2 linked regions of the Homo sapiens genome follow. The protein of the gene in region 1 purifies or fractionates together with the protein of each later gene. This does not show direct contact. Each region holds a gene or a part of one and is shown on either strand. Other genes may lie near its edges.

Evidence for each region.
Region 2: the proteins of TECPR1 (region 1) and TRAPPC8 purify together in Homo sapiens (affinity purification with mass spectrometry; one large-scale study listed by BioGRID and IntAct). This does not show direct contact.

The regions. Positions count from the first base shown.
Region 1 is NC_000007.14:98,245,443-98,249,262, reverse strand, and holds part of TECPR1 (tectonin beta-propeller repeat-containing protein 1), read left to right. Parts: intron 1-3,097; 5' UTR 3,098-3,116; coding exon 3,117-3,341; intron 3,342-3,820. UniProt on the Homo sapiens protein: Tethering factor involved in autophagy.
Region 2 is NC_000018.10:31,828,651-31,832,186, reverse strand, and holds the end of TRAPPC8 (trafficking protein particle complex subunit 8), read left to right. Parts: intron 1-13; coding exon 14-103; intron 104-1,197; coding exon 1,198-1,432; 3' UTR 1,433-2,990; downstream 2,991-3,536. UniProt on the Homo sapiens protein: Plays a role in endoplasmic reticulum to Golgi apparatus trafficking at a very early stage. Maintains together with TBC1D14 the cycling pool of ATG9 required for initiation of autophagy. Involved in collagen secretion.

The sequences.
Region 1 (3,820 bases):
CTGTCTTCCTGTTCCTCACCCTCTCACTCACTTCCTTCTCAACCTGCAATCTGTCTTCTTGGTGTTTGTAAGATATACCTTGTCCCAGCCAGGGCCAGGGGCTCCTGCCTGTAATCGTAGCACTTTGGGACGGATCACCTGAGGCCAGGAGTTCGAGACCAGCCTGGCCAAAGTGGCAAAACCCCATCTCTACTAAAAATACAAAAATGGGCCAGATGTGGTGGTGCAGGTCTGTAATCCCAGCTACTTGGGAGGCTGAGGCAGGAGAATCACTTGAACCCAGAAGGTGGAAGTTTCAGTGAGCTGTGATTATGCCACTGCACTCCAGCCTGGGAGTAGAGGAAGACTCTGTCAAAAAAAAAAAAAAAAGATGCACCTTGTCCCCAAAGAGCCTAGTTTTTTGTTTTGTTTTTTTTTGAGACGGAGTCGCACTCTGTCATCCAGGCTGGAGTGCAGTGGTGCAATCTCGGCTCTCTGCAACCTCCACCTCCTGGTTCCAGCGATTCTCCTGCCTCAGTCTCCTGAGTAACTGAGATTACAGGCACGCGCCACTGTGCCTGGCTAATTTTCACCTTTTTTTTTCAGTAAAGATGGAGTCTCACCATGCTGGCCAGGCTGGTCTCAAACTCCTGGCATCAGGTGATCCATCCGCCTTGGCCTCCCAAAGTGCTGGGTTTACAGGTGTGAGCCACCACACCTGGCTTTTTTTTTTTTTTTTTTTTTTTTTTTGCCGGTGGCAGCTGCTCCTCTTTTCAGACATGCTTCTATCTCGTGCCATCGTCACAGTCACCCGGCCGTCTGGAGCACCCGCATGGCTCTGGTATGCTGCGGGAGCACTGGGCCCAGCCTCCAGGCACCTAAATAAACTCTGCCTGTCTCCTTTTGCTCCGGTTTTTAAGTCAGACTGGCCATGTCTTCATCTGTAGGCTCTTTCCTCTCTTCAGGCCCCGGGCCAGTGTCCTGGGTTGGATCTAGGAGCCGCCCTGTCGGGCAGAGCTTCTCAGGTGATGGCCCTGGTGGCTTCATCCAGTAGCTCTGTGTTTGGCTGCCTTGTGTGTGGCCATGTGGCCCTGCCACGGTGGAAAGACTGTTCCTATCAGGAGCCAGGACTCCAGGAAGGACACCCCTGGGTGCAACAGCACTATGGGCCCTGGAGGTGGGGCCAGGGGTGGTCAGTGGCAGAGCTTAGCAATAGCCTTGGCTATGCCTACAAAGCACAGAGAAAGAAGAGAGAAAGGGCTGGGTGCAGTGGCTCACGTCTATAATCCCAGCGCTTCGGGAGGCCAAGGTGGGAGGATCGCTTGAGGCCAGGAGTTCAAGACCAGCCTGGGCAACATAGCGAGACCCCATCTCTACAAAAAAAATTTTAAAAATTAGCCAGGTACGGTGGCACATGCCTGTAGTCCCAGCCACTCAGGAGGCTGAGGCAGGAGGATGGCTTGAGTTCAGGAGTTCAAGGCTGCAGTGAGCTATGATTGCACCACTGTACTCCAGTCTGGACAACAGAGCAAGATACTCTCTTAAAAAATAAAAAAGAAAAGAAAAGAAAAAGAAAGGAGTAGAGAATGGCAGAAGAAGAGAGCCGGGGGAAGAGGAGGAAGGAGTCACTGAGGGCGCATGAAGAAAAGACCCCTACGTCCCTGAATTCACATGGTCACGTTGGCTCTCAACGTGCCCTCATTATGCCCAGATAGAGGCCAACATGGCGGGGAGACCTGCCCACTCTGGGGAAGGACCCCTGGGGAAGTAGTGGGGTAGTTATATCTTTCGAGATTCAACTAAACCTGTAAGCTTTCATTGATTCTTTTGAAAACAAAGATCTGGCCAGGCATGGTGGCTCAAGGCTGTAATCCTAGCAGTTTGGGAGGCCGAGATGGGAGGATTGCTTGAGACTAGGAGTTTGAGACCAGCTTGGGCAACATAGTGAGACTCTGTCTCTACAAAAAAAAAATTTTTAATTAGCTGGGTATGGTGGTGCATGTCTGTTGTTGTCCCAGGAGGCTGAGGTAGGAGGATCACTTGAGCCCAGGAGTTCGAGGCCGCAACGAGTTGTAATCAAACCACTGCACTCCAGCCTGGGTGACCGAGCAAGACCCTGTCTCTACTTTTTAAATTCTTTTTTTTTGAGACAGGGTCTCCCTCTGTCACCTAGGCTGCAGTGCAGTGGCACTGTGTCTGCTCACTGCAACCTCCATCTCCCGGGTTCAAGCCATTATCCTGCCTCAGCCACCTGAGTAGCTGCGACTACAGGCACACACTACTGTGCCTGGCTAATTTTTGTATTTTTAGTAGAGATGAGGTTTCACCATGTTGACCAGGCTGGTCTTGAACTCCTGGCCTCAAGTGATCTATTTTTAAATTCTTTCAAAAACAAAAAAGAGACCGGGCGTGGTGGCTCATGCCTCTAATCCCAACACTTCGGGAGGCAGAGGCAGGTGGATCACCTGAGGTCAGGAGTTCGAGACCAGCCTGTCCAACATGGTGAAATCATGTCTCTACTAAAAATACAAAAATTAGCCAGGCGTGGTGGCGTGCACCTGTAGTCCCAACTACTGGGGAGGCTGAGGCAGGAGAAAACCTGGGAGGTGGAGGTTGCAGTGAGCCAAGATCCCAAGATCGTGCCATTGCACTCCAGCCTGGGCAACAGAGCGAGACTCCGTCTCAAAAAAATAAACAAAAAAAGAAAGAATAAGCAGTTGGCCACGCGCGGTGGCTCACGCCTGTAATCCCAGCACTTTGGGAGGCTGAGGCAGGCAGATCACAAGGTCAGGAGATCGATACCAGCCTGGCCAATGTGGCGAAACCCCGTCTCTACTAAAAATACAAAAACTAGCTGGGTATGGTGGCAGGTGCCTATAATCCCAGCTACTTGGGAGGCTGAGGCAGGAGAATTGCTTGAACCCTGGAGGTGGAGGTTGCAGTGAGCCAAGATTGCGCCACTGCACTCCAGCCTGGGTGACAGAGTGAGACTCCATCTAAAAAAAAAAAAAAAGAGAAAAAGAATAAATAGTCACAGTAGAAGTCTCCCAGGTTTCACATGACTCTGATGTCCCCTGGGCTGGGAGCCTGAACGCTGGCCCTCGTCCTCCTGCCGCAGGTTACCTCCAGCCGCTGCCATGCCCAACTCAGTGCTGTGGGCGGTGGACCTCTTCGGGAGAGTGTACACGCTGTCCACAGCAGGCCAGTACTGGGAAATGTGCAAGGACTCCCAGCTGGAGTTCAAGCGCGTCAGCGCCACCACGCAGTGCTGCTGGGGCATTGCCTGTGACAACCAGGTCTACGTGTATGTGTGTGCCAGCGATGTCCCCATCCGCCGCCGAGAGGAGGCCTATGAGAATCAGGTAGTGACCCTCATGGTTGGAGTTGCCGAGCGGGTCAGTTCGCTGGGTTATTGGTTAAAATGATGAACCACAGAAGGGAAATAGAGGCCCCAGATTCCCCACCAGTTCCTGCCTTCATTTCCTTCCTTGTACTTAAAATCTGTGTTGCTGCCAGGCGTGGTGACTCACGCCTGTAATCCCAGCACTTTGGAAGGCTGTGGCGGGCAGATCGCTTGAGCTCAGGAGTTTGAGACCAGCCTAGGCATCATGGTGAATCTCTGCCTCTACAAAAAAAATACAAGAATTAGCAGGGTGTGGTGGTGTGCACCTTTAGTCCCAGCTACTTAGGAGGCTGAGGCAGGAGGATCACTTGAGCCAGGGAGGTCAAGGCTGTAGTGAGCCATAATCGTGCCCTGCACTCCAGCCTGGGCAACAGAGCAAGACCCTGTCCCCCTGCACCCCGCCCCTCCAAAAAAAATTCAAGTTGCATAGTATCCAGG
Region 2 (3,536 bases), on another chromosome or scaffold:
TTTTCTTCCATAGCCTTTGTTTAGTACCAGTCACTCTTTTACTTTCCAATTGTTCTAAGGCTGATGTAGATGTCATAGTTGATCTTCGGCATAAAACAACAAGGTAAAGATTTGTTTAGTGCAAGGTTATTTGATTTGGGAGCAATTTAATATTTTGAAATTATGCAAATAATTACCTAACATGGATAAGAAAGTTACTCAAGCTTGTCCTGGTTTTTTGTTTGGTAATATAGAAGGCTTACAGATGTGTTACAGAGGCTTTAAATATTAAAGATTTTTTTTTCTTGATTATAAAATAGTACTTAACAACAAAAAAAAATCCAGATCCACAGTCCCACATCAGATACTCCTAGAGCCAAATGCTTTTGGGAATTCAGAAATTTTTGAATTTTTGGAAAAATACTATAAAGCGTATACTTAATATTTTTGTATAACACCCCAAACAGGATCTGGGACAGTTCTCTGAAATCCAAACACACACCTATATATGTGATTTTGTGTATCATAAATTTATTAATACTTTATTGGGTACTGGGTTTTCCATTTTTCAATATTATAAACAGTTTCAATATTAAAAGCATTCATGTACAGACACTTATATATGGCTAACTAAGGAGTTAAAAGTTTAGGTTTGAAATCAAGTTCCAACATATACTAACTCTTAGGGCATTAAATGAAATAATCCACTTTTAGCATTGTGCCTAGAGAATAGAAACTATTAAATAATAAATGTTAGCTGTTATAGTAATGATGTTGCTATTATTAATAAACAGTTGGCTTCATAAAATAATTTTTAGAAATAGAATTGTTAGATGAAAGGGATGTTTGTTTTCTTCTTGAGATGGAGTCTTGCTCTCTCATGGGCTGGAGTGCAGTGGTGCAATCTCAGCTCACTGCAACCTCCGCCTCCCAGGTTCAAGTGACTCTCCTGCCTCAGCCTCCTGAGTAGCTGGGATTACAGGCGTGCACCACCATACCTGGCTAATTTTGTATTTTTAGTAGAGACGGGGCTTCATTATGTTGGTAGGCTGGTCTTGAACTCCTGATCTCAGGTGATCCACCTGCCTCAGCCTCCCAAAGTGCTGGGATTACAGGCGTGAGCCACCGCGCCCAGCTGAAAGGGATATGTTAATGTGACTTTGGGAAAAAAATTAAAAAGAAAAAAATCCTGCAACTTACATTTTCCTCCTCCCTTAGTCCAGAAGCACTGGAAATCCATGGATCATTCACATGGCTTGGACAAACACAGTATAAACTTCAACTTAAAAGCCAGGAGATTCACAGTCTGCAGCTGAAAGCATGCTTTGTTCATACAGGTGTTTATAACCTTGGAACTCCTAGGGTATTTGCCAAGTTATCGGACCAAGTTACAGTGTTTGAAACAAGTCAGCAGAATTCCATGCCTGCCCTGATCATCATCAGTAATGTGTGACAACTTGGAAATTTGTACTGAAATCCACAATAATCAGTTTTTGCTGGATGGGTTTTACAGCAGTATTTGATATACCTAACTTGTTATGGAGGTTGATTGATATCTGATCCCTGCAAAATACTTTGACTTGTCATTTTGTTGATGATGCAAAGCACGTTGGACTGAGAATACTTAACATTCTTTTTCTGTATTTCTTTAAACCCTGAGAATAATTTACATGCTCATAATACAGGATATCAGCATATTTGTGCACCTTATTAAGCCCCATCTTAAGAAAACACAAAGTCTAAGTCTGCTGTTACAACTTGTCAATGGTATACGAATATTAGGAGATGATTCTGAGAAAGGAAAGGCCTTGTTGGCAGTACTCCTGTTAAGCCATTAGTCTCTAAATTCCAGCTTTACTGTGAAGTTCTATAGAGTGTTAAATACAAATTTTCCTGTCTTGCTTCACACAGTTCCTTAAAATCAGTTTTGAACTTTGGTCATAGAGTCTTCATATTTCAGTATTTGGTGGTCCCTATGACTTATACATAACTTTGTAAAAAGAAAAAAAAATTTTTTCTGATGCTTTGAATATAGTTTTGAAAGGAGTTTTGACTTTTTTCCCCTCATTCATCTCAGTATAGAGTGCGCTATTTCACAATACGATTTTTGTCATTAAAATTACCATATTCTTTATTATATAACGTTAACTATTGAGTTGATCTGTTTAAAATATAAATCTCAAGTTAATTAAAAATAAGCTTTTCAAAAATGTATTATATTTATAACAAATATACTGTAAATAGAATAAAGACATGCTATTCACTGTATAGCGTATTAGTATCTGTTGATTAGAAAGTCTGGTTTCAAAATATTTTTTTATTCAGAGAATGGGCATTTGGACATAAGAAATTTCAATTCAGCCCTGCTGCAGATAGAGAAATGGGAGCAAGGTTGTTTCAATGAATATCTCTTGTCATTGGAGAAGGAGGGAAGACAGGGTGTAGGAGTGGGTGGCAGGGAGTACAAGAGCCAGGGTCAGTCAAGTCTGGAGCAGATGGGGTCCTTGTGCCATTGACAGCTACCATGGTTTGTTCCAGTCTCAATCTCGGCACTAATCGGAGCAGACTGCACCAAAGTGGGGAGAGATCAAAAGACCCCGTTTTCAGACTGAAGATTCCAAACCTGTACTTGGAACAACTCTTCTTGAGAGATGGGTGGCTAGTCTGTGTGCCTCTCTGCAACTGCTGCTTATGCTTCTGGATCTTAAGTGGGTCTCTGGCTTTTCAGCTCCTTCCACTCTGTGTCTTAGCAGGTGTGGGACAAGTTGGAGAGGAAGGTCACATTCTAAGGACACTCATTTCCTTCTTGAGAGTTTAGGGCCATGGGCTTATAAAAAGTCTGAGGAGGAAAGACAAGAATGAGGAGGCATAATCACAGTGGTATCTCATATTTAAACCACTCAGCTGAATATTAAATTGAACCGATTGTTAAACAGACACTAATAAAAAAATTAAACTATATAAACCTACAACTGAATATATTAAAAATAAAGGTAATAAAGCACTCAAAATTACTTCCTGAATATTACTCAGGATTATTTATGTCTATTTTATCTGTATCCTGGAAATACTACACAATGGTGTGTTTCTGCTCATCTCTTGCCAACCCTACATTCAGTGACTTGCTGGTAGCTTGAAATCAATGATAGTAGAATGTTTACCTCAGGAAAACCAGCAAATGCTACACACCAGGGCTTGATTTATTTATTTTTGTTGTCTACGCTAGACCTAAGAAAGTGATGGAGAAAATGTTAGTGATGCATATTAAAAGTGTTGCATATTTGTAGCTGTAACGAGTAGCACAAATAGTTTAGGAAAATATTCCTGCAGTATCTGAAAAGTTTTACCCAGTTCAACAAAGAAGTTGCCCGTATCACTGATGAACTAGTGAAGATCCAACATGTGTTTTCTCACTTCCTCTTCCTCGTTAATGTAAACAGAAATATCAACCAGCATTCATACTAAAATTATTCTCGCTTATCAATTGCAACATAGGTTGGTTTTCTATACAAGAGCTCAGCAAAAATCAAAGAAACTACTCTGAGTGGCCGGGCGCG